2 separate regions of the Homo sapiens genome follow, and region 1 is linked to region 2. The links come from fine-mapping of genetic effects on plasma protein levels. A gene starts in region 2. The other region holds a variant in brackets. All regions are shown on one strand. Distances are from middle to middle.

Region 1 (11,294 bases), 24 kb after region 2:
GTATTATAATACTCTGTGTGTGTGTGTGTGTGTGTGTGTGTGTGTGTAAAGAGATGGGGACTAAGGCAGGTACAGCAAAGTGCTAAGGAGTCCAGATGGGGATAGATGCTACTTCTACTTCTAGCTGCAGGAGACTTCAAGGAGGGGCTGGAGGGATGTATCTTGAGGGATGGATAGCATTTGATTTTTCTAAGTCTTGGAGAAGAGCATTCTGGGGGCCTGGGGGGAAGGAACAAAAGCACGTTATAAGGAAAGTGCTATGGAAAAGTAATTGGGAACAATTCAGTGGGACAGCTCTAGTATGAATTAAGAAATCAAGTGGGAAAAAATATGTTGGGCCACAGTAGGTAGGGACAACCTCATGTTGATAACCCTTTAAAAAAATTCCAGATGTTTTTATCCATGTTACATGGAGAGAAATATTCACCATTACATGTAATTTACTAATCTTTAAATAATTATCATATACTTACCTCATTTATACAACACATTTAACATCTATTAATTTAGTAAATGAGATTTCTCTTAAGCACTGTTGCAAACTGAATCCCTCTTCTCAAGTTTAAAGTAGGAGACTCTTGGAAATATTTTTCAAAGAGAGGACAAAATATGCCAATAGAACAATGATTATAAAACTGAATAGTATAAAAGTCATTAAAAGGCTAAAACTTTGGAAGTAAATTTGTGTCCACATCATGCCTGTCCTGATTCTAATTCTGGTTCTCTTTATGCTTCTGGGTTTTTTCCCTCTTTCATTGCTTCCTTGGGTTATGATTATACTTAGCCAAGAAAGTCAGGCTTAGCTTCTCAAATGAGCTGCTAATGTTCCAGGATTTAGAGCATGTGAGTCAACTCTGTTATCCATCTGAAGGTTTTCCAGTTACACATTGTAAGGTACAATGTGTACCTTACAGATGTAAGGTACATCTGAAATAGTCCAAATTACTGACTCAGGCCAATCACATATGCTTTGATTTTTCTGTGACCTAATCTTTTTCTCAAAATGACCCTGGTCCTCAATGCGTTGTCTTCATAGTCTAATAAACATCTACCTCCCAGTTCTTGTTCTGAAAATCTTTTTCTTATTTTACTACCAACAGAAAACTGTTTATATAACTGCTTTGGGTCTAATTATAAAGTTAATCTGATTCATTGAAAATACAACTTTTTTTCTCATCTCTCAACCATTATGACTTGCAACACGGACATTTAAGTCAAGTCTGAGGAGTCTGGATGTTGGTCTATAGGGAATGTTAACCAATGAAAGGCTCTAAGTAAAGGGTCGCTTCAGGTATGCTTCAGAGTAATCAATCTGGCCTCACAGAGGAAAAGGATTAGAGTAAATGAGCAGGAACCAGGGAGCCAGAGGCCAACTGGGGAGACTACCGTCTGGCTGAGGAGTAATTAAGACCTAAAGCAGGGCAATAGCTGTGGGAGCAGAGACATTGGCAGAATGTAGCCACATCATCTGTTTCAAAATCCCAAATGTGATTTACTCAAGTCTTGTTCAATGAGGGGTAGAGATCAGGCAGTAAAATGACTGTGGTTTTACTGGTACTAACGATGCCAATTTGAGAACAATTTTGATAGCTGCTACTTTAGTGACTCAGTGCCCGTTAGAAGAAACGCGCCAAATTACTAACAAAAAAAGCAATGAGCAAGGCAGGAAATGTTTGGATTGCCCATGTTGCAGTTGTCATGCTAAAACTGCTCCAGTTAATAAGGCATCTGATATGCTGCTTGAATCTTATTTGTACCTTAACTTTGTGGATATAGGATTATGATGTGTCTATTATGGAATTTAGCATCCTGATCCCTCCAATTATACTCTTAAAATAACATTCATTTTTTTCTTATTAAAAACATTTTTATATTGTAACGCATATAACAATTACATTCAAATTTAGAAAACACAGAAAAGTATAATGAAGAAAATAATGATCACTTTTAAACCTACCACACAGAGAAATCTGTTAAAACTTACCCTTTTAAAATAAGGCTAGGATCAGTATAATTATTTCATCCAGTAATATTTCATTCCTGTAACAGTAAACCGTAGTGCTTTCTCAATCTTTAAATAATTTCCTAAAACGGGTCAACAAGCTAATCCAGCCTGCCACCTGTTTCTGTAAATAAAGTTTTGTTGGCACAGAGCCATGGCTATTTGTTTATGTACTATCTATGGCTGCCTTTGCACTACAAGAGCAAAATCGAATAGTTGTGACAAAGGCAGCACAGCCTGAGGAGCTGGAAATATTTACTATCTGGCTCTTTACAAACAGTTTGCTAACTCCTGCTTTAAAAGATTATTTTAATGACAGCATATAATTAGATCAAAAGGCAGTTCCCTTGGAGAGTGCACGAGCCAGTGGTTAGAAGCACAATGCTGGCGCCAGATTGTCTGGGTTTGTATCCTAGCGCAACCATTTAAGAAATGTATGAGCTTGCCTACCTTATTTCACCTCTCTGTGCCTCAGTTTTCTCATCTGCAAAATAGGAAAAATAAAAGTGTTATCCTCATAAAGTTGTGATGAAGATGTTGTGAGCCCTGTGATGCGCCTCCAGATTTTCCTTTGGTCATTAGTGACTTCTTCCTTCAGCTGTGGGAAGTGCTGCCAGTAGACAGCCCTCAGCTGTCAGCTTTCTTTGGGGACTGCCTTACCCGAGGAAATTGCCTCACTCAAAATCATGCCTCCTCCAAGGGACAGTTCACATTCAATGACACATCCACATAAATGGAATAGTATAAAGGCCTGTGTCCCAGCCCCCAACTCAGGACAACTCTGAAGGACCAGTCCAACTCCAGAGTTACCCATGGGCTGGCAGAGGCCTTTTTTGGCATTGCATAGCTGCTCAATCTCCCCCTCTGCCTAATCTCCCTTCTTCCTCCTCCCATCCTTAGGTGCTGATCCCAACAATACTCCCTAATGAATATGCTACATCCTAGTCTCCATTTTAGAATCTGGTTCCCAGGAAACCTAACCTGAGATAGTATGTTAAATGAGTCTATATTTAAAATCTCTGACACATAGTAGATGCTATATATTTATATAATTTTTTCTTAAATAAACAAATAATCCAGTGGGAAAGAGTGAAATGGAAATACAAGTTCAAGGAGAAAAAAATAGAACAATGTAAAATTTCCTACAATTGAAGAATAACTTAATCATAAAGTTTTTGTTAAAAAAATTAATTATATAGATCAAGCAGTGGTTATTGGTTGAGACAATCCACATTGACAACTTTGAAATATTCCAGTGTTAATATTTATTTATTTTTAAAAATCTTTTTTAAAAAGGTGTACTTTTCTTTTAAATAGTATGTGTATCTATTTGTGGGATACATGAAATCTTTTGATACAGGCATGCAACATGAAATAATCCAATGCTAATCTTTAAATACAGGGGACAAACATCAATCAGATTCTCATAACATGTTCAGAGTCTACATAAACTGAATTCTGGACCTAGTTCAATACACAAGGGAAAGAGAATGACAGTGTAATTACCAATAATTAAACCAAAGGCATAATTTTCCAAATCACTTTTAGTAAGTGAATAAATTCTGACATTTTAAAAGTCTAAAGCTACATAAAATTCAAAGCAATCAAACTATTTTTCTACCTGAAATTTTTTTTGAATTTCTGGAGGGAGGGCAAGATGGCTGACTGGACACAGCCAGGTGGAACAGCTGCCACCAAGGAACCAAGATGACTGGGGCATGTCTAACAGATCTTCAGAGGGAAGTCACCTAGAGTGGATGGAGGGAAGACACAGAACCTGGGCTGAAGGGGGAAGAAGCTGGGAACCCTGCATGAGGCTACCACACACTGAGACTCGTTCCTGGCCCCAGTGACACCAGGGGAACAGGTGAATTGAACTGGCAAGGAGCAACCCGTTCTTGCCATGGGCCTCTGGAATCCCAGCAGGAGGAGACCCCCTTGACCAGCACAGACACTTGAGTTAGCAGGAAAGGCTGCTTAGAGAAGTGGTAGCGGCAGCACATCAGCTGAGGCAGAGCCTAGACGGTTTGGTGCAGGAGCATCTTTAGTGGAGCACAGCCAGGGAAGCCCATCTCCCTAGACTCAACTTGCTCCCATAAGAGACTTTAGCCCTAGGGAAACTGTAAGATCTGAACTCTGCAAGGTGATCTTGCCCTTCAAATGGGGCCAGTTCAACCTGAGCACCTCTTGGTCTGCTGGCCTCTCCCAGGGCCCCAGCCTCCCCACACCTGGTTGCAGAGCAGCCTCAGGTGCCCTGGGGGCCCACTTCACAGCTCCTGTACTGGCAGATCATGCCTGGCTGGCAGACAGCTCCAGAGGGGTGGCCCCCATGGCCATGCACCAGCCTGCCTGCTCCCTTTCTACACTGCAGTTTCTCCCAGGCTCACAGCAAGCCCCCACATTGCTTTCCCAGAGCACATGTGCATGCGCAGGTTTTGCCTTCCTTACCCACCAGTGCAGTGTGTGCAAGCTCCCTGCCCTGCTACTGCTGCAGTGAGAATGCACTCCACCCCACCTCCCCACCACCACCACCACCATTGCAGTTGGAGCCTTGGCAGGCATAGAGCCAGCCAGCCAGCCCTACTCCCACCAGTGCCCTGCCCTTGTGCCAACACTGCCCTGGGAGTGAAACTAGGCAGAGAAAACAGTGGATCCTCCCCTGCCCTGAGGGACCACCCTAGCCTGCAGCACACAGAGAATACACACAGACCTGTGCCCACCAGCACCCCACCCCCATGCTAACACCACCACCAGCCTGACTGCACAGTTGCCAGCAGCGACCCCCCGACCCCCACCCAGCGGTGCTGCCTCTGCCGCTGTGATGAATGCCCACATGGAGGCAGGCATCCCAGCACCTGTACCCTGCTGCAGCAAACAAGCATATACCTCACTATGCTTCCACTGCCACTGCTGCTGTCATGTGTGAACGAGGATGGATCCCAGTGTTACTGCACTACAAAATGCTTTGGCTAACACCACCCATTAGTGTAGTGAACAGCAATCCGAACCACCTCAGCTCCCCACCCCAACCCCCCATACAGTGGATTCCTAACCTCAAGGATCCAGACAACAAGATCAGGGCCCGATACAAGTCCCCCAGAGAGAGAACACACAGTCCAAGAGTTGAGAGCTTCAGCATTGGCCCCTTAAAATCTTCCAAAAACAAAGCCAGTTGACTGAATCCATCTTATACCACAACCAAACCCTCAAGGTCATCATACTAGATGAAAGAAA[GA/G]AAAAAACACCCAAAGGTCAGCAACCTCACAGATTGAAGAAACATCAACCCACAGAGATGAGAAAGAACCAACCCAAGAACTCTGACAACTCAAAAAACCACAGTGCCTTCTTTCCTCCAAATGACCACACCACCTCTCCAGCAAGGGTTCTGAACAAGGCTGAGATGGCTGAAATGACAGAAACAGAATTCAGAATATGGATAGGAACGAATACTAGCCTTGAATGTAAATGGCCTCAGTTCCCCAATTAAAAGGCAAAGTGGCAAGTTGGGTAAAGAAACATGATCTATTGGTATGCTGTCTTCAAGAGACCCATCTCACATGCAATGATACCCATAGGCTCAAAATTAAGAAATGGAGAAAAATCTACCAAGCAAATGGAAAACAGAAAAAAATCAGGGGTTGCAATCTCAATTTCAGACAAAACAGACTTTAAACTAACAAGGATCAAAAAAGATAAAGAAGGGGATTACATAATGGTAAAGGGTTCAATTCAACAAGAAGACCTAACTATGCTAAATATATATGCACCCAATATACAAGCACCCAGATTCATAAAGCAAGTCCATAGAGACCTTCAAAGAGATTTATACTCCCACACAATAATAATGGGAGACTTCAACATCCCACTGACTGTATTAGACAGAGCATTGAGGCAGAAAATTAACAGATATTCAGGACCTGAACTCACCAATAGATCAAATGGACCTGATGGACATCTACAGACCTCTGCATCCAAAAGCAACAGAATATATATTCTTCTCATCACCACATGGTGCATACTCTAAAATTGACCACATAATTGGACACAAAACTCTCCTCAGCAAATGCAAAAGAACTGAAATCATAACAACCACTCTCTTGGACCACAGTGCAATCAAATTAGAAATAAAGACTAAGATATTTGCTCAAAACCATACAGTTACATGGAAATTGAATAACCTACTCCTGAATGACTTTTGGGTAAATAATAAAATTAAGGCAGAAATCAAGAAGTTCTTTGAAACTAGTGAGAAGAAAGATACAATGTACCAGAATCTCTGGGACACAGCTAAGGCAGTGTTAAGAGGAAAATTTATAGCACTAAATGCCTGCATAAAAAAGTTAGAAAGATCTCAATTTAATAGCCTAACATCTACAACTAAAAGAACTAGAGAACCAAGACCAAACTGACCCCAAAGCTAACAGAAGACAAGAAATAACCAAAATCAAAGATGAACTAAAGGAGATTGAGACACAAAAAAACATTCAAAAGATCAATGAATCCAGGAGTTTGGTTTTTAAAAAAATTAACAGAATATACTACTAGCTAGACTAATAAAAATAAAAGAGAGAAGATCCAAATAAACACAATCAGAAACAATAAAAGGGGCATTACCATTGACTCCACAGAAATACAAATAACCGTCAGAGAATATTATGAACACCTCTATGTACATAAACTAGAAAATCTAAAAGAAACATAAATTCCTGGACACGTACAACCTCCCAAGACTGAGCCAGGAAGAAATTGAATCCCTGAATAGACCAATAACAAGCTCGGAAATGGAATCAGTGGCTGACTACCAATTAAAAAAATAAAAAAATAAAAGCCCAGGACCAGACAGACTCATAGATGAATTCTACCAGAGCTGGTACAATTCCTACTTGAAACTATTAAAAAACACTGAGGCAGAGGAACTCCTCTCTAACTCATTCCATGAGGCTAGCATCATCCTGATATCAAACCCTCATAGAGACACAACAAAAAAAGAAAACTTCAGGTCAATATCCTTGATGAACCTTGATGCAAAAATCCTCAACAAAATACTGGCAAACCAAATCCAGAAGAACATTGAAAAGCTTATCTACCATGATAAAATAGGTTTTATCTCTGCAATGCAAGGTTGGTTCAACATACGCAAATCAATAAATGTGATTTGTCTCATAAATGGAACTAAAGACAAAAACCACATGATTATCTCAATGGATGCAGAAAAGGCTTTCATTAAAATTCAACACTGCTTCATGTTAAAAAACTCTCAATAAACTAGGTATGGAAGGAACATACTTCAAAATAATAAGAGCCATCTATGACAAACCCACAGCCAACATGATACCGAATGGGCAAAAGCTGGAAGCACTCCCCTTGAAAATCAGCACAAGACAAGATGCCCTCCATCACCACTCCTATCCAACATAGTATTGCAAGTCCTAGCTACAGCAATCAGGCAAGAGAAAGAAAGAAAGGGCATCCAAATAGGAAGAGAAGTCAAATTATCCCTGTTTACAGATGACTTGATTCTATATGTAGAAAACCCCATAGTCTTTACACAAAAGTTCCTTCAGCTTATAAATGACTTCAGTAAAGTCTCAGGATACAGAATCAATGTACAAAAATCAATAGCATTTCTATACACCAACAACAGTCAAGCCAAGAGCCAAATCACAAACACAATCTCATTCACAATTACCAAAAAAAAAAGAATAAAATATCTTTCCTAGGAGAACTACAAAACACTGCTCAAAGAAATCAGAGATGACACAAACAAATGAAAAAAATGTTCCTTGCTCATGGATAGGAAGAATCAATATTGTTAAAATGACCATACTGCCCAAAGCAATTTAGAGATTCAATGTTATTACTATCAAACTACCAATGACATTCTTCCCAGAACTAGAAAAAAACTATTTTAAAATTCATATGGAACCAAAAAAGAGCCTGAATAGCCAAAGCACTCCTGAGCAACAAGAGCAAAGCTGAAGGCAGCATGCTACCTGACTTCAAACTATACTACAGGGCTACAGTAACCAAAACAGAAAGGTATGGGTACAAAAACAGACACATTGACAAATGGAACAGAACAGACAGCCCAAAAATATAGCTGCATACTTACAACCATCTGATCTTCAACAAAGCTGACAAAAATAAGCAATGGGGAAGGGACTCCCTATTCAATAAATGGTGCTGAGATAACTGGCTAGCTATATGCAGAAGATTGAAACTGGACCCCTTCCTTATATCATATACAAAAATTAACTCAAGGTGGATTAAAGACTTAAATGTAAAACCCAAAACCCCTGGAAGACAACCTAGGCAATACTATTCTGGACATAGGAATAGACAAAGATTTCATGACAAAGACACCAAACACAACTGCAATGAAAGCAAACATTGACAAATGAGACCTAATTCAACTAAAGAGCTTCTGTGCAGCAAAAGAAACTATCAACATAATAAACAGACAACCTGCAGAATGGGAGAAAATTTTGCAAACTATGCAACTGACGGAAGTCTAATATCCAGCGTCTATAAGGAACTTAAACAAATTTACAAGCAAAAAACAAAAACCCTATTAAAAAGTGGGCAAAGGACATAAACAGACACTTTTCCAGAGAAGACATACATGTGGCCAACAAGTATATGAAAAAAAAAAGCTCAACATTACTGATCATTAGAGAAATGCAAATCAAAACCACAACGAGGTACCATCTCACCCCAGTCAGAATGACTATTACTGAAAAGTCAAAAAATAACAGATGCTGGCAAGGTTGCAGAGAAAAAAGAATGCTTATACACTGTTAGTGAGAATATAATTTAGTTCACCCATGGTGGAAAACAGTGTGGCGACTCCTCAAAGACCTAAAAACAGAACTATCATTTGACCCAGCAATCCCATTACTGGGTATATACCCAAAAGAATATAAATCATTCTATTATAAAGACACATGCACATGTCTGTTTGTCGTGGCACTATTCACAATAACAAAGACATGGAATCAACCTAAGTGGCCATCAATGGTAGACTGGTTAAAAGAAATGTGGTAAATATACACCATGGAATACTATGCAGCCGTAAAAAAGAATGAGATCATGTCCCCTGCAGGAACATGGATGGACCTGGAGGCCATTATCCTTAGCAAACTAATGCAGGAACAAAAAACCAAATATCGCATGTTCTCATTTATAAGCGGAAGCTAAAAGATGAGAACACATGGACGCATAGAGGGAAACAACAGACATTAGGGCCTACCAGGGGTGGAGGGTGAGACAAGGGAGAGAATCAGGGAAAATAACAGGTACTAGGCTTAATCCCTGAGTAACTAAATAATCTATATAACAAACCCCCATAACATGAGTTTACCTATATGGCAAACCTGCACATGTACCCCTAAACTTAAAATAAAAACTTAAAAAATCTTCCTTGTCCTATTTAAACATAATTCTTGGTATTGAGGTAAATCTGAATTCACATGATATGCTTTGTCAAATTTTTCCAAAAACTTTTTTTTTTTTTTTTTTTTTTGGAGACAGAGTCTCACTCTGTTGCCCAGGCTGGAGTGCAGTGGCATAGTCTTGACTCACTGCAACCTCTGCCTCCCGCATTCAAGCGATTTTCCTGCCTCAGCCTCCCAAGTAGCTGGGACTACAAGTGCGCACCACCATGCCTTGCTAATTTTTGTATTTTTAATAGAGACGGGCTTTCACCATGTTGGCCAGACTAGTCCTGAACTTCTGACCTCAGGTGATCCACCTGCCTCGGCCTCTCAAAGTGCTGGGATTACAAGCATGAGCCACCACACCCAGCCCTGTTTTGCTTATAATTTAAAGATTTAAAAAATATTACAAATCATATACTTGACAACTATGTAAATTTGTTTTGACAATGTTAGGTGTAATCCCAAAATGCATGAAGAAATGCATTGATTTAAAAAATTTATTTGGGGATATTCTAGAAAAGTTTTTGAAGGCCATTATTTTAAGATATCTCTGATCTTCTGATCTTCAACCTATGTGAAAAGATTACCTAAGCCATGGCACATGTTTACAGGGCTTCATTTCAGCTTGATACCTGCCCAGCCTCCATCTAAAAGCAAAACTTGCTCTCAGGTACAGACTGATTTTGTGCATGTGGAAATAAAAAGAATTGGGATTAGCCAGTCACAGACTTCACAAAATGTTCCAGTACTGTAGTAACTGAATTGCTGCCAGGAGCAGCTGTAAATAAGAAAGAAATTCGCTGTCCTTCAACTGCAATCCTTCTGGTTTTAAAACCACAACAAAAATCCTCTCCTGGATCACCACAACATAAATGAAGAATCTTAAAAAGAACATCCTGGCCAAGCGCAGTGGCTCATGCCTGTAATCCCAGCACTTTGGGAGGATGAGGCAGGCAGATCACTTGAGGTCAGGAGTTCGAGACCAGCCTGGCCAACATGGTGAAATCCCATCTCTACTGAAAATATAAAAATTAGCCAGGCATGGTGGCGCATGCCTGTAATCCCAGCTACTCAGGAGGCTGAGGCAGGAGAATCACTTGAACCTGGGAGGCAGTGATTGTGGTGAGTTGAGACTACACCACAGCACTCCAGCCTGGGCGACAGAGCGAGGCTCCATCTCAAAAAAACAACAATAAAAAAATCCTATTAGGAATACAAAAGCTTAAATTAAAAACAAACAAAATACCGAGACTGAACTACAGTGGCCCTAGGATCTATTGTAAAACGCATGTTTAGTAAAGGCAACTAGTGTAATCTCAGACCAGTCTGTCAAGTTCTCTGCTACGGTTTACTGTTTCCAAAGATACAAAGCACTCACTCAACTCAGTAAATATTTTTTGGATACCTATGCAACAGGTGCTAAGGGAAATCCAAAGTTCCATGCTAAAAGATTGCTACCTGCAAGGATCTTGGTTTAGTAGAGAAGGGGAATCAGTTTCCAAAAAGACTGAGAAAGGTGTCACTTATTCCTGTGAGGGGCTTTAGAAGAATTAGTGGCAATATGAAAAAATATATACTTTCACAAAGCTTGAGTGGAAAAGAAAGTTGAAAAAGGGACATTAGCTGGAGGAGGATGTAGAATAAATACGTTGTTTTAGGATTTATTCAATACATTTTTATTTACCACATTTATTAGGTACTGTTTTACATCCTGGTGATTAAGCAGAGAATAAAATAGACAGAGCCCCTCTGTTTTAATTAGGGAATTGGCTAAGCTGCTCTACCAGGTCCAAACAAACAATGATTTTTTAAAGAACAAAGTTTATTTTCTCTTGCATAATGGTCCAGAAGTCTGT
Region 2 (11,294 bases):
TAGATAAAGAATTTTTCCAATGGTCTCATCAAGAGTCAAGTTCTGGGCCCGGCGCGATGGCTCACACCTGTAATCCCAACACTTTGGGAGGCCGAGGCGGGCAGATCACCTGAGGTCAGGAGTTTGAGAACAGCCTGGCCATCTCTACTCAAAAATACAAAAAAATGAGCCGGGCATGGTGGCAGGCGCCTGTAATGCCAGCTACTTGAGAAACTAAGGCAGGAGAATCGCTTGAACCCGGGAGGCAGAGTTTGCAGTGAACCAAGATCGTGCCACTGCACTCCAGCCTGGGTGACAGGAGCAAAACTCTGTCTCAAAAAAAAAAAAAAAAAGAGTCAAGTTCTGCCTTCTAGATGGTGGCAATTTGTAACATTGAAAGTTGGTATACCATTCTTTGAAGAGCCTAATAAGCACTTTGGATCCTGTAAGTGTTTGGAAAGCAGCACCTCCTTCTAAAAAGTGGTTTATTCATGGAGCTTCCATCTGAACAAACAAGCTGAAATCACAGATGCTAAACAAACAAGCTGAAGTCGCCGGATGCTAAGGAAGAGCAGTATTCAGTCATTTTCTGTTTGCCCAGGAACAGACAAACAATTTTGCTTCCAGTCTACTGCCAAGAGCCTGTGTTCTCAGTGAAGCAGGTGCTCTCAGCGAGGGTGTATCTGGTGGGAATATGAACAACCTGAGCCTACACCTGTGGCCAAACAAGGAGCTGCCTGTCCCGCATCTTCTATGGTCAGCTCTTATCCATCTTAAGGTGAAGATGAATAAGTAACAACAGCCCACTCATGACCACATCACCAGGATTCTCTCCCACACGGGCTGGAGCCCTCTGTTTTATGTTCAGTGGTGAGGACCCCTTAAGTCATGGCACAGGCAGGGCTAAGTGTTAGCCAGGAACCACTACAAATTTCCCTTTCATGCAAAAGAGCTGCTCAGAATGAGTACTTACCTTGAGCACCACAGGACTGGGCCCATCAGCTCTATCTCTGATCTAGGCATAACTCTCCCATTTACCCCGAATCCCCAAGGAAAAAAAGGCTAGAAACAATAGTAACTTTGGAGGAGGGCTGCTACCAAACTGTTTCAGAGCAGTTCTGATTGAGAAAATATTTTTTTAAAAAGCAGTTACTATTTCCTCTCTCAATATGCCTTTATAGGGTTAAGCATGCAAACTGTGAGGTCTTCACCGGCCTTAAATTTTCAACTACAAAATGGGTATAATAACATTACCTACATCATAAGATTGTGGCAAACATTGAATAAAATAAAATATATAAAGTGTTCAGGAAAATGCCTAATACAGAGAGAGTACTCAATACCTAAGAGCTATTATTTAGGTAAGAAAACCTCAGATCTTATGCTGAAAGCAACAGAGAGTAAAAAGATAAGAGTAATGTTGAGAAAAAGATCGAGGGATAAGACAAAAGGAGCAAAACAATCTCTGAAATAGAGCCTGAGTTTTCTGTGCAAGCTGTAGAAAACAGCCATATGAAACGCTCAGTACATAAAGGACACCTTTGCCTTCCTTTCTCAGGAAATCAAAGAAATCCAAGTTTTTAAGAAAATCAGTTTTTAACACTCAGCCAATCAACCAATTTATCTCTAGGCGTTTTCTCCTTGAGAAATATTGTGAAGAGGGATTTCCTTTTGATTGTGGTGCCGTGTGTTTTACAAAGCAGCAAGGAAAGGCTTTTATACACAGCTGAGCAACAAACAAAGAAAAGCTGACCAGACCTATCAAGTGGGACTCATTGATTTGATGGGAGAAACTGTTGCTTGACTGCAGGTTGCAGATGATTTTAAATTGGATGGGCTTGAGAACATCTAAGAAAGAAGGAGGTAATTTTAAAAATTGGAAGTCTATGAACTTTGAGTAGCATAATGTAACAATAGGTGAGACAGAGTCAAAAATACTCAGTCCTTTAGAAGAGTAAGAGAGAATATGTCAAGATTATGTCAAAAATACCTGTACAGATGTGGAATGGGAAAAGACCAACTTGGTACAAATATAGCCTAACACCTCAAGTTGAGCACAACCTGAATATAAGTCAGCAATGTTCATGATTGTAGGCTGTATAAACAGGAGCTTAAGGTATATGATTGGAAAATAACCCCTTCCAAAATCCTCAGCATCAGCTAGCAATAAAGTTAAAAATGCAATTCCAGGGAATTAGCCTGGAACTTTTCCAGATTGTCTGGAGTAAACTGCCAAGAAAGTGGAGTGACACTTCAGAAAGATTCTTCTTTCTGTTTTCAGTGTTAACTCTCATTTTCTCCATCTTTTTGACCCAGTATCTCTTCTTATGGGATTTACAACAAATATGTCAATATTATGATGATAACTGTATAATCAACCCATTAGGTACCTACCAGACGATCTTGAATTTTATCTACAAGGGTTGGATCACTCAACAGTAAAGTGGGTTCACTGGATGAATCCCCAGAAATCAAACGAAGTTTGGCTTCATTGACTACCGTAGAAAGTGCAATGGTGATAAATGATATTCCTGAAATTCTGGCATCTTCAGAAATACTTTGAACATCTGGATTCTTTGGATGGTCGATGCCATCAGTCATCAGCAAAACCACTTTCACACCATCCTTACGCCCTTCTCTCTTAAGTAGCCTAGTGGCATTGGAAATGGCATAATAAGAGAAGGTACCTTGCCCTATTAAATTCATAGACTTGACCTTCTGCTTAAATGTCTGCAGGTCCTTCCAGGAAGAAAAAGGTGGATCAATTTGGACAGAGCTGCTAAACTGAAGGGCTGCCAGTTTGATGTCATATTCCAAGGAGCGACCAGGAGTCAATTGGAAAATCTTGTCACTCAAGCTATCCACAAAATCTTTCTGTTTATCAAAGAGGGCAATTTTAGAACTTTCAGAGCTGTCCACGATGAAGACAATATCTATGAAACAAATGGAGCCTGAAACAGAATAAACAGGTTAGGCAAAATAATTATTCCTATCATGAAACAAATTTGCATACGGAAAGCCCTGAAGTGGTGTGTTGTATATTGTTTGGTGTTGAGAGCAGCGTGAGGAGAGAAAGAGAGACACGTTGGACAGAAGGCTTCAATTGTAAAAAACTAAATGTCTAAGTTTATGAATTATTTTCTCCTTGTAAAATCATGCAAATTAAAAATAAATAAGATATCTTTTATTCTGAGCATCTTTTCAATGTTAAACCTGCTGAAAGTGGGAGGAAATGGGAAGTCAAGATGCATCACATTTTAAAAATCCAACTAACACTGAGCATAGTTGTCTAGAAGTAAATGATACTCTAATTCTCAGGTTGTGTCATATTGGTGAGTCCCTATTTTTTTTTAAACTTTCTTGAAATCAAGGGAGAAAATGACTATACCCCCTATACCAAGAGTAAGTGGAGAAGAAACCTAACTTAAACACAACTTAAGTTTAAATCCCAGCTCTGTGTCTCAGTGGTTAATTTGCCTATGGCCTTGAGTATGCCACTCGACCTGTTAAGACCTCAATTTTTTTAATCTACACTATGAGTGGCAATCTCCGTCCTGCCTATTTTACAAGGTTACTGTGAGGCTCAAATGAGATAATAAGTGCACAAGTGCTCTTATTAAAGACTCTGATGTGCTATAAGTATGTAAGGTATATTATCATCATATAATTTTATCAAAGTAGACTATCACATGTATACATGTATATGGCTTGCTATTTATATCAAATGCTATTTAGAAAAATTCACATAAGTATTTTTAACAGGCTAAACTTAAAAACAAACAATTTTTTTTTTTTTACCCTGGACATCACTTTTCCTTGCAAGCAAATTTGATTTTGGTCCTTTCTTTCTTTGTCCGGATACTGTTTGACTCGTAAACGCTGACAAAAGCAGGAGATAGAAGACAAAATATCTGTTCCACATTATGGTAGATGGTGAAAAATCATCTGTCTTGTAGCACCTTTAATAGAAAAGTCAGTTACAAATACTTTAATAAAATATGGTGTTTGTTATTTTTAAATTTCAAGCCAGCAGGGTTGAAAACTGGCATGTGACTGGAAAAAAGAGGTTTTCATTCATATTTCTAGAAAAATATTCACATTGAGATTTTGAAAGATTTCAATCCAAATAAATCATGGCACCATGACCAAACATTTATTAGTGAATATTTCTATATATTCAAAGAACTATATTTAAGTATTCTTAATTCCGCATTGTATTTTGAGGAGCATAGAGTTGGGAGAGCCATTTAAAAACATTTCAATCCCGCTCTATATGATTACTGTGGTTCAATCACAGGGTCTGCTTTGACATTTCCAAATTCTTCAGGGGGAATTCAGATTGCTATATGGTCATTTCATTCACTTTCATTATAACTGATTCCTGACAAATCTAGTATTTTGTAGAACTGTAGACAACCACCACCCTTTCAGGCTTAATACTACACACATAACTTCAGTGAGTTCAGAGGTCAAGGTAAAAATTAAACGACCCTTCTGTTTCCATAGAACCCCATCTCTCTTTTCTACCCTAGCTTTGGAAACTTTGTCTCCACCAGGGGTTCAAAGCTGCATATGCAATGAATCAAAAGAGTATGAGAGCAAAAATAATAGATTTGCTTAAAAGCAACACTCTTCTTCCAGTGATGGCTAAAAGAACTAATGGACAGAAACGGGACTTAAAGCCAAGAAGCACCCCCTCTGAATAGCCCCGTGAAACTATTTTTCTGGGTGGATTAACAACGAAAAATCTAATTCTGTATTAAAATCCTCAATCTTCATCAGTCAATATGCCTAGCTACACACCAACTGACTCTTAAACTGACAGATTTCCCTGGGAGGAGAAGACTCATGTGTTGCTGCCTCAGTATACCCAAGAGAATGGGAACGAGAAAGCTTATTTCGAATCAATACTTAGTATGGCTTAAAAATGCTTGCCTGCTGAAACTTTATTGACTTCAGGAGTTCTGGAAAAGGAATCACATTTTCCTTCTTTGGCACCTTGCCTTTAGGGGATAAGAATCTGGGAAATCATGAGCACGATTTTTCCAGACTCTGAGTAGAGAGTGGAAATATATGCAAAGGCAGTGAGGAGTGAGATGGAGACTGACTTTTTTCATACATGCCAGATGGATAAACCCCAAAGGGAAACAAAACTGTTGGGTTAGGAGAGGACCAATGGATGGCTTCATGCCACAGTCTGCTCCTCACATAGCATCATCCAGCTGGAAGTGTATTAAAAGAACTTTGGATAGGTATGACCAAACATCTTGTGTAGCAATTGGCCAAATGCCAACTGATCCTCAGACAAGGTATACTAAAATGTAAAGACAGCTGGGTATTAAAAACAAAACAAAACCAAGAAATGTGCTAAGGAAACAGAACACACAAAGGCCATCTCTCCTCAAGTTGTCCCTTTGCTAACCAAGGAAAAAAATAAATGATGTACAACTTTAAGTCTGAAGGTTAGTGTAAAGATAAGGCTATGTGAAAAACACAGTTGTTATTGCATTTTCAAAGGGGAAAGGGAATAACACCATGGCCATGGTATTACATATGACTTTTCTCTTTGGTTGAGTTCATACCATAAGGAACATCTCAGAAGTTCTGGAAATAAGAGGCTGAGAACTGAATTCCATTGAGAACTGAGCAAGATTTTATAAGCAACATAATCAAGCAACTCTTCAAAACCCTTCATGTAAGGTTTTAGAAATACTGGCTTTAAATAAAGATTTATCTTTTCCCAAAACTAAGCACCTGCTCTTACTGTTTTCTTGGCATATAATCATGAATTTGTACCTGATCCCTGTATATATGATATTCACAAACATAACTTTTCCATTGACAATAATCCCAGTATCTCATATTTTGTTCTTATTTGCTCTGACATTGTTAATCTAGCTCTCCCAAACCAAAGTCTTGTTATTTCTTTCTGTTTCCCTATTGTAGCCAGAGGACATTTTCATACCTCTCTAGATTTGTTTCTCTAGCTTGTTAGTTCTACTGCTTCCCTGAAATATCTTTCTCGTTTATTAATTTGGCATCTTGAGAGCCCACTCATTTCTAATCACTTTTTACCATGTTTTATTTTGCCTCTGTTTTTAATAATTCTCACCTTTCTCTCTTTCTGATGTCACGTACAAGCAAAATAGGTTTCAGAGGAAACAGTGCCATTAGTTAAGTGAAAGAAATGTGAACCTCTGTGTTTACTATAGGTTACATTTTATAAATGCAGAAACAATCATAATTATTAATCAAATACCGTAGTTTTACTTTTGGCCTAAAATTTATTTGGGGTAAATATCAGGATCAGTAAATAAATCCAAGATACTTTATTTTTTATAATTTTTCAAAAATAAAATGATCTTATATCAGAGTTCACCAACTTTAGTTACAATGTTTGCATCTCAGTTTCTACACAAATAGAAAATGATTGAATAAAGACTTTATTCAAATTGACAAATTAGCCAAGTTGTAAAGTATTCTATAACTAATTCTGAATTGTAAACCCTGTTCCAAATTAAGAAAAAGATGTCCTAAAATATATTAACATCGTTGTAAAACAATTTAGAAGACTGTAAATTAAAAATCCATTTCAAAATAATTTTAAGTTTTAAATTTCTACATTTTAACAATGTTAATATTTTTCTAATAATTGATTTGAAGTAATTGCAGAGAATACAAACTATTGACAAGCTTTCTCACCTAATAATTATGTAAGTAAGTCATTTAGTCTTCCACAGTTCCTTGATGGTCCTATCTGATTTCAAGTGACTAAAATAAATCTGTTATGTCTTACCTTATAAAGTTTGTCAAACAGGAATTAAAGACTAGTTGAGTAAATGCCAACAGCAAGGACTGTGGTTGGGGGTGAAGTTAGCTATTTGATATTGTTCTGTTCTGTGGGAAATAAAAGTGTCTTTGCTTTAGGATCTTTTGCAGTCTTTTGTTCATGTTTATTCGACTAAGTCAAAGCAAGAGTGGTCAGGCATTTGGCCAGGGTGCAAGATCTGGGTGGGATCAGTAAGCAATTTAAAGGAACAGTGTCCTTTCAGAATGAGACTGTGTTTTCCAGACTATTGTAAAAACAACTTGAGAGAACTTTCTACATTTTAGGCATTGGTTGACAGCCTGCCTTTTTTTCTCATGCTATGTCCTTCTCTTTTTATTGCTACATTTCTTTGCCTGGGGGATGTGCTCTAAGATACTGGTTCTGAACATCTCTGTGAAGGAGTATAAATGACACCAGACTCAGAATCAAAGCTGTTTTTTTAAGAGAGGTAACAGTTTGATTGTTATTAAAGCTGGATGATGAGTACATAGGTGTGCATTGTTCTAGTCTTTGTATTTCTGTGATTTTTGAAATTTTTTATAATAAAAGGTATATATAATATACAGGGAAAGAGTGGTCTGAGTATAGTCATAGTTCTGCCCCTAACTTTTATGGGGGCTTCAGTTCCCCACTTATGAAATGAGAGAGTAGATTTAATCATTTATTAAGATGTGTTCGAACTGTAACATGAGAGGTTTACAGCGGTTAATATTTTGGTCTCTCTCTAGGAAAGGATCACTGTGGTTTTTCCACTCCCTGTTTCCCTATTTTCTACCTTGTGGTTATGGTCCATATTAAGTCAATGTTTATCATGTAATATATACTGCCAAGAAGCCACCTGACCCCTAGACAGCTAACAGGCAGGCTTCTCCACGGACTTCCTCTGAAATAGAGAATAGCAAGATCATCCGAGAAAGCAATACAAATGTGCATGTTACGGTTATTTAAAATGAACTTTCTTAGCCATTTTAATGTGTATGAATTTCCTTATTACAGCAATAATAGCCTCCAATTCATGGACACTTACCAGGTGCTAGGCACTGTCCTGAGTGCTTCACACACATTACCTCATTTAATCCTTCACAAGCACAACCACCTATATACAGTAAGTCCTCACTTAATGTCCTCTGTAGGTTCTGGAAACTGTGACATAAAGTGAAACAATTGATAATGAAGACAATTTTCCCAAGAGCTAATTGATATAAATAAGAGTTAAGCTCTTATGGCATATTCCTAGTCACAAAAACATCACTAAACCTCTAAATACTCAAAACACCTCTAATAATAAACATTGAAATAAATCTAAGCTATATATACATTTATGAAAGATTGATAAAAACAAGATAACTGCTTACCTGCATATTCCAGTTCAGGGTCACGGTTGACCAGATCCTGTCCCAGCAGCTGAGGATACAAGGCAGGAACCAGCCCTGGACAGGATGCAGTACTGTCAAAGGGCACTCATACACCCACCCACTCTCTCAGACAGGCACCATGTAGACACACCAATGCATCTAATGGGCAAAGCTTTGGGATGTGGGAGGAAACTCCAGGACCTGGAGAAAACCCACACAGACATGGGGAAAACATGTCAACTCCACACAGTGAGCCTGGCCCAGGAATTGAATTTTTTTTCTCATCAATGTTATAACAAAATGACATTGAACAAAATATTATTCCAGGACCCCTTGTACTTAGTAGATGTTGTAAGAATTCGAATTTTTCCAAGATGGAGGCAGAGAGAGGTTCAGTAACTTGTCCGCTGTCATACTAAAACCAGAGAATGGCAAAATGAACTTTTAACTCAGGCTGGTAAGACCTGTGAGCCTCACTTATAACAACTACTGCATCATTAAGTATCTATGCGAACGTCTGTGTTTTCACTGTCTCCTCCTCACAAAACAGGTTTCGAGGAACTGAGGAAGTTTTGTGAGGCTTTGGTAACAGAAAGAAGAAACGGTGGGTATAATGCAGAAATAACAACGGAATTTCCTAGGGAACAACCATGTATTTACCTGATAGCCTATGGGTGTTAGTCACACTTTTTACTTTTGTAAGATGAGAATCAAGAGACAAGGAAGTAGCATCTTTTCAGGTCAACTCTCTTTTTGCTGAGGCAGGTTAAAAACATGCAGAATAATAATGCCACTAAGAAGCAAACAGGTGATTCCTAGATGGGGGAAATGGACTAAAGCCCTCCTGCCTTGGAGCTGTTTTGATTAAAGTTGGTGGGAGGTTGGAGTCCAACTTAGTCATCCATTCCCTTTCATTCTCCAACATTAAATAGGGTAACTCAAACCAAAGATTTGCCACCTCTCATTCTCAAGCGTGAAAATCAGCACTAAATTAATTGGGAAGATTATGCAAAATAAAATCTTCAGTTTCATCAATCTATAAAAGACAATTAGTTTTGCACCCAGAGAAACAATGCACCACAATCTTAATCCCAACAGATGGTCTTGAATTAGTATGCTATTGGACTTACACCAGAACAAATAAGAGAGCATGGATAACCATAATGACTAGAAAAAGGCAACGTGGAGCCCATGCCCTTCTGACAGTTATTTTGTAGTAAAAGTCTTTATGGAAGAAATATAGCACACTATTTTCATTGTTACTACTATAAATAGCCCAGAGTAAGCAGTCATATTTGTGAAATAAATGATTATTAGAAGTAATTTTTAGTGTTTATCAGTCACTTGAGGTCTGTGATACAATAAATTGCTCTTCTCCAAAGCTCTGCTAGATGAAAATCTTTTTTCAACTTTTTCAAATTCTTTTAATATGCTACCATAGTAGCATCTGCATTGTGTTTATTGATTCTAGTACCAGTGCCAACATCTTAATTTCAGTGGTGATGATATTTTGGGGTCCTAGAATCATTTAAAAAGAGACAAGTCTGCTAGGACTTACATATTTCAGAGAATTGTATCTGCATGAAGTCATAGAAATACACACAAAAAAAGGCTGGTAACAAATCAAAGTTATATATTTTGACCAAGATTAAGGCATAGTATAGTTTCACAAGCTTCTCCCTATTTTAGCCACCTCCCACACTGCTGATCTAGAGTAGAAAAAAAAAAACATTACCAACTAACAAGGAAGAAATTAATGACCTTCGTACCTGATTTGAAGAAATTTGTTCTTGAAGATCCTTTCCTTTCTTTCTTTCTTTTTTTCTTTTTCTTTCTTTCTTTCTCTTTCTTCTTTTTGTCAGTAGAAAAGCTTGATATAGTAGAATTTCTAACACCTGCCCCAAAGCTCTGAAATTTCTGGGATTCATTATCCTTGGACCCAGAATATGACCTAGGCATTCTCTCAACTCCTTCATCAGTAATTAGAGGAACACTGTCTTAGTCCATTTTGTGTTGCTATAAAGGAATACCTAAGGCTGAGTAATCTATAAAGAAAAGAGGTTTATTTGGCTTACAATTCTGCAGTCTATGCAAGAAGCATGACACCAGCATCTGCTTCTGGTGAGGGCCATTGACTGCTTCTACTCATGGCAGAAGGTGAAAGGGGACCAGCGTGTGCAGATCATATGGTAAGAGGGAGCAAGAGAGCAGGGAGAGAGGTGTCAGACTCTTTTAAAGAATCAGCTCCCCCAGGAACTAATACAGAGAGAACACACTCATTACCGCAAGGATGGCATTAAGTCATTCATAAGGGATCCACCCACATGACCCAAACGTTTCCCATCAGGCCCCACTTCCAACAGTGGGGATGAAATTTCAACACGAGGTTTGGAGGGGGCAAATATGCAAACCATGGCAAACACCAAAACTGTATTGGTCTTATTTGTCAACAAAGGGAAAGATTAAAAGCATTCAAAGACAATAAGAAAATAAAAATTATCATTGGTAATAAAATACAGGATGTGGCATTGCTTAAATGTGGAACAGCGTGACTTCAGTTCCTATGCCCTCACCAAATTCTGATTGAGTTGATCCTTCCACATTCCCTCTACTATTTTTCAATTGTTACTATTATTTAATAAACTTTATGGTTTAGAGCAGTTTCGGGGTACAGCAACACGGACTCAATTATCTTTTATATCGTTTACTCCCTAAGATCTCTTGCTTCATTATTTGTCATTCAATCCCCAGCTTGAATAATTGTGTCACATTTGCAACACACAGTGCCTCATAGGCTACAGTGACAGGCTAAATTCCCGTTATACCAATCTTATGACTATTAATCTCTTTCTCTAAAATATTTTTTCAATATTAATATTTCTTCTTTCCATGTTGTTTATTCCTGACTAAATGCAATTATTTTAGACCAAAAATAAATCAAGGTGCCATCTGGAAAGTTTTACAATTTTTTTTCTAAGAAATATCTGAAAGTAGATTGATCTAGTCCTATCATAGGTTTGAATGTTCAATATTTTTCTTTAATTATTTTCTTTGGTCAATGGATAGAGCAGTTTTAACTTTTTCATGCAGAGCCTACAAATAGAGAAAGATCAGATCTATTTATACCTTGA

Direction of the effects. Positions count from the first base shown, and alleles are read on the strand shown. Strength reflects both the effect of a copy and how common the allele is.
In carriers of allele GA in region 1, the plasma level of the protein whose gene starts at base 6,899 in region 2 tends to be higher than with G alone (weak association).

What was found. PIP is the chance, under the fine-mapping model, that this variant and not a neighbour inherited with it causes the effect. The UK Biobank Pharma Proteomics Project read protein levels with antibody pairs (Olink). The fine-mapping took linkage between variants from a reference panel, not from the people measured, so its PIPs are less certain.
Region 1: its variant is fine-mapped to the plasma level of the COL28A1 protein (UK Biobank, PIP 0.99).

What each region holds. Positions count from the first base shown.
Region 1 is chr7:7,552,704-7,563,997 of GRCh38, forward strand. MIOS-DT (MIOS divergent transcript) reads right to left here. Exons shown (of 5, transcript NR_110084.1): 3 at 2,453-2,486; 4 at 1-219. Among named protein-coding and RNA genes, the nearest start is that of MIOS-DT, 7.7 kb to the right of the region's middle. RefSeq lists enhancers at 4,105-4,606, 4,607-5,106. The variant GA/G (reference allele first, on the strand shown) is at 5,237.
Region 2 is chr7:7,528,975-7,540,268 of GRCh38, forward strand. It overlaps COL28A1 (collagen type XXVIII alpha 1 chain), which reads right to left and starts at 6,899. Exons shown (of 35, transcript NM_001037763.3): 1 at 6,776-6,899; 2 at 3,778-3,938; 3 at 2,374-2,930. The coding sequence starts at 3,901.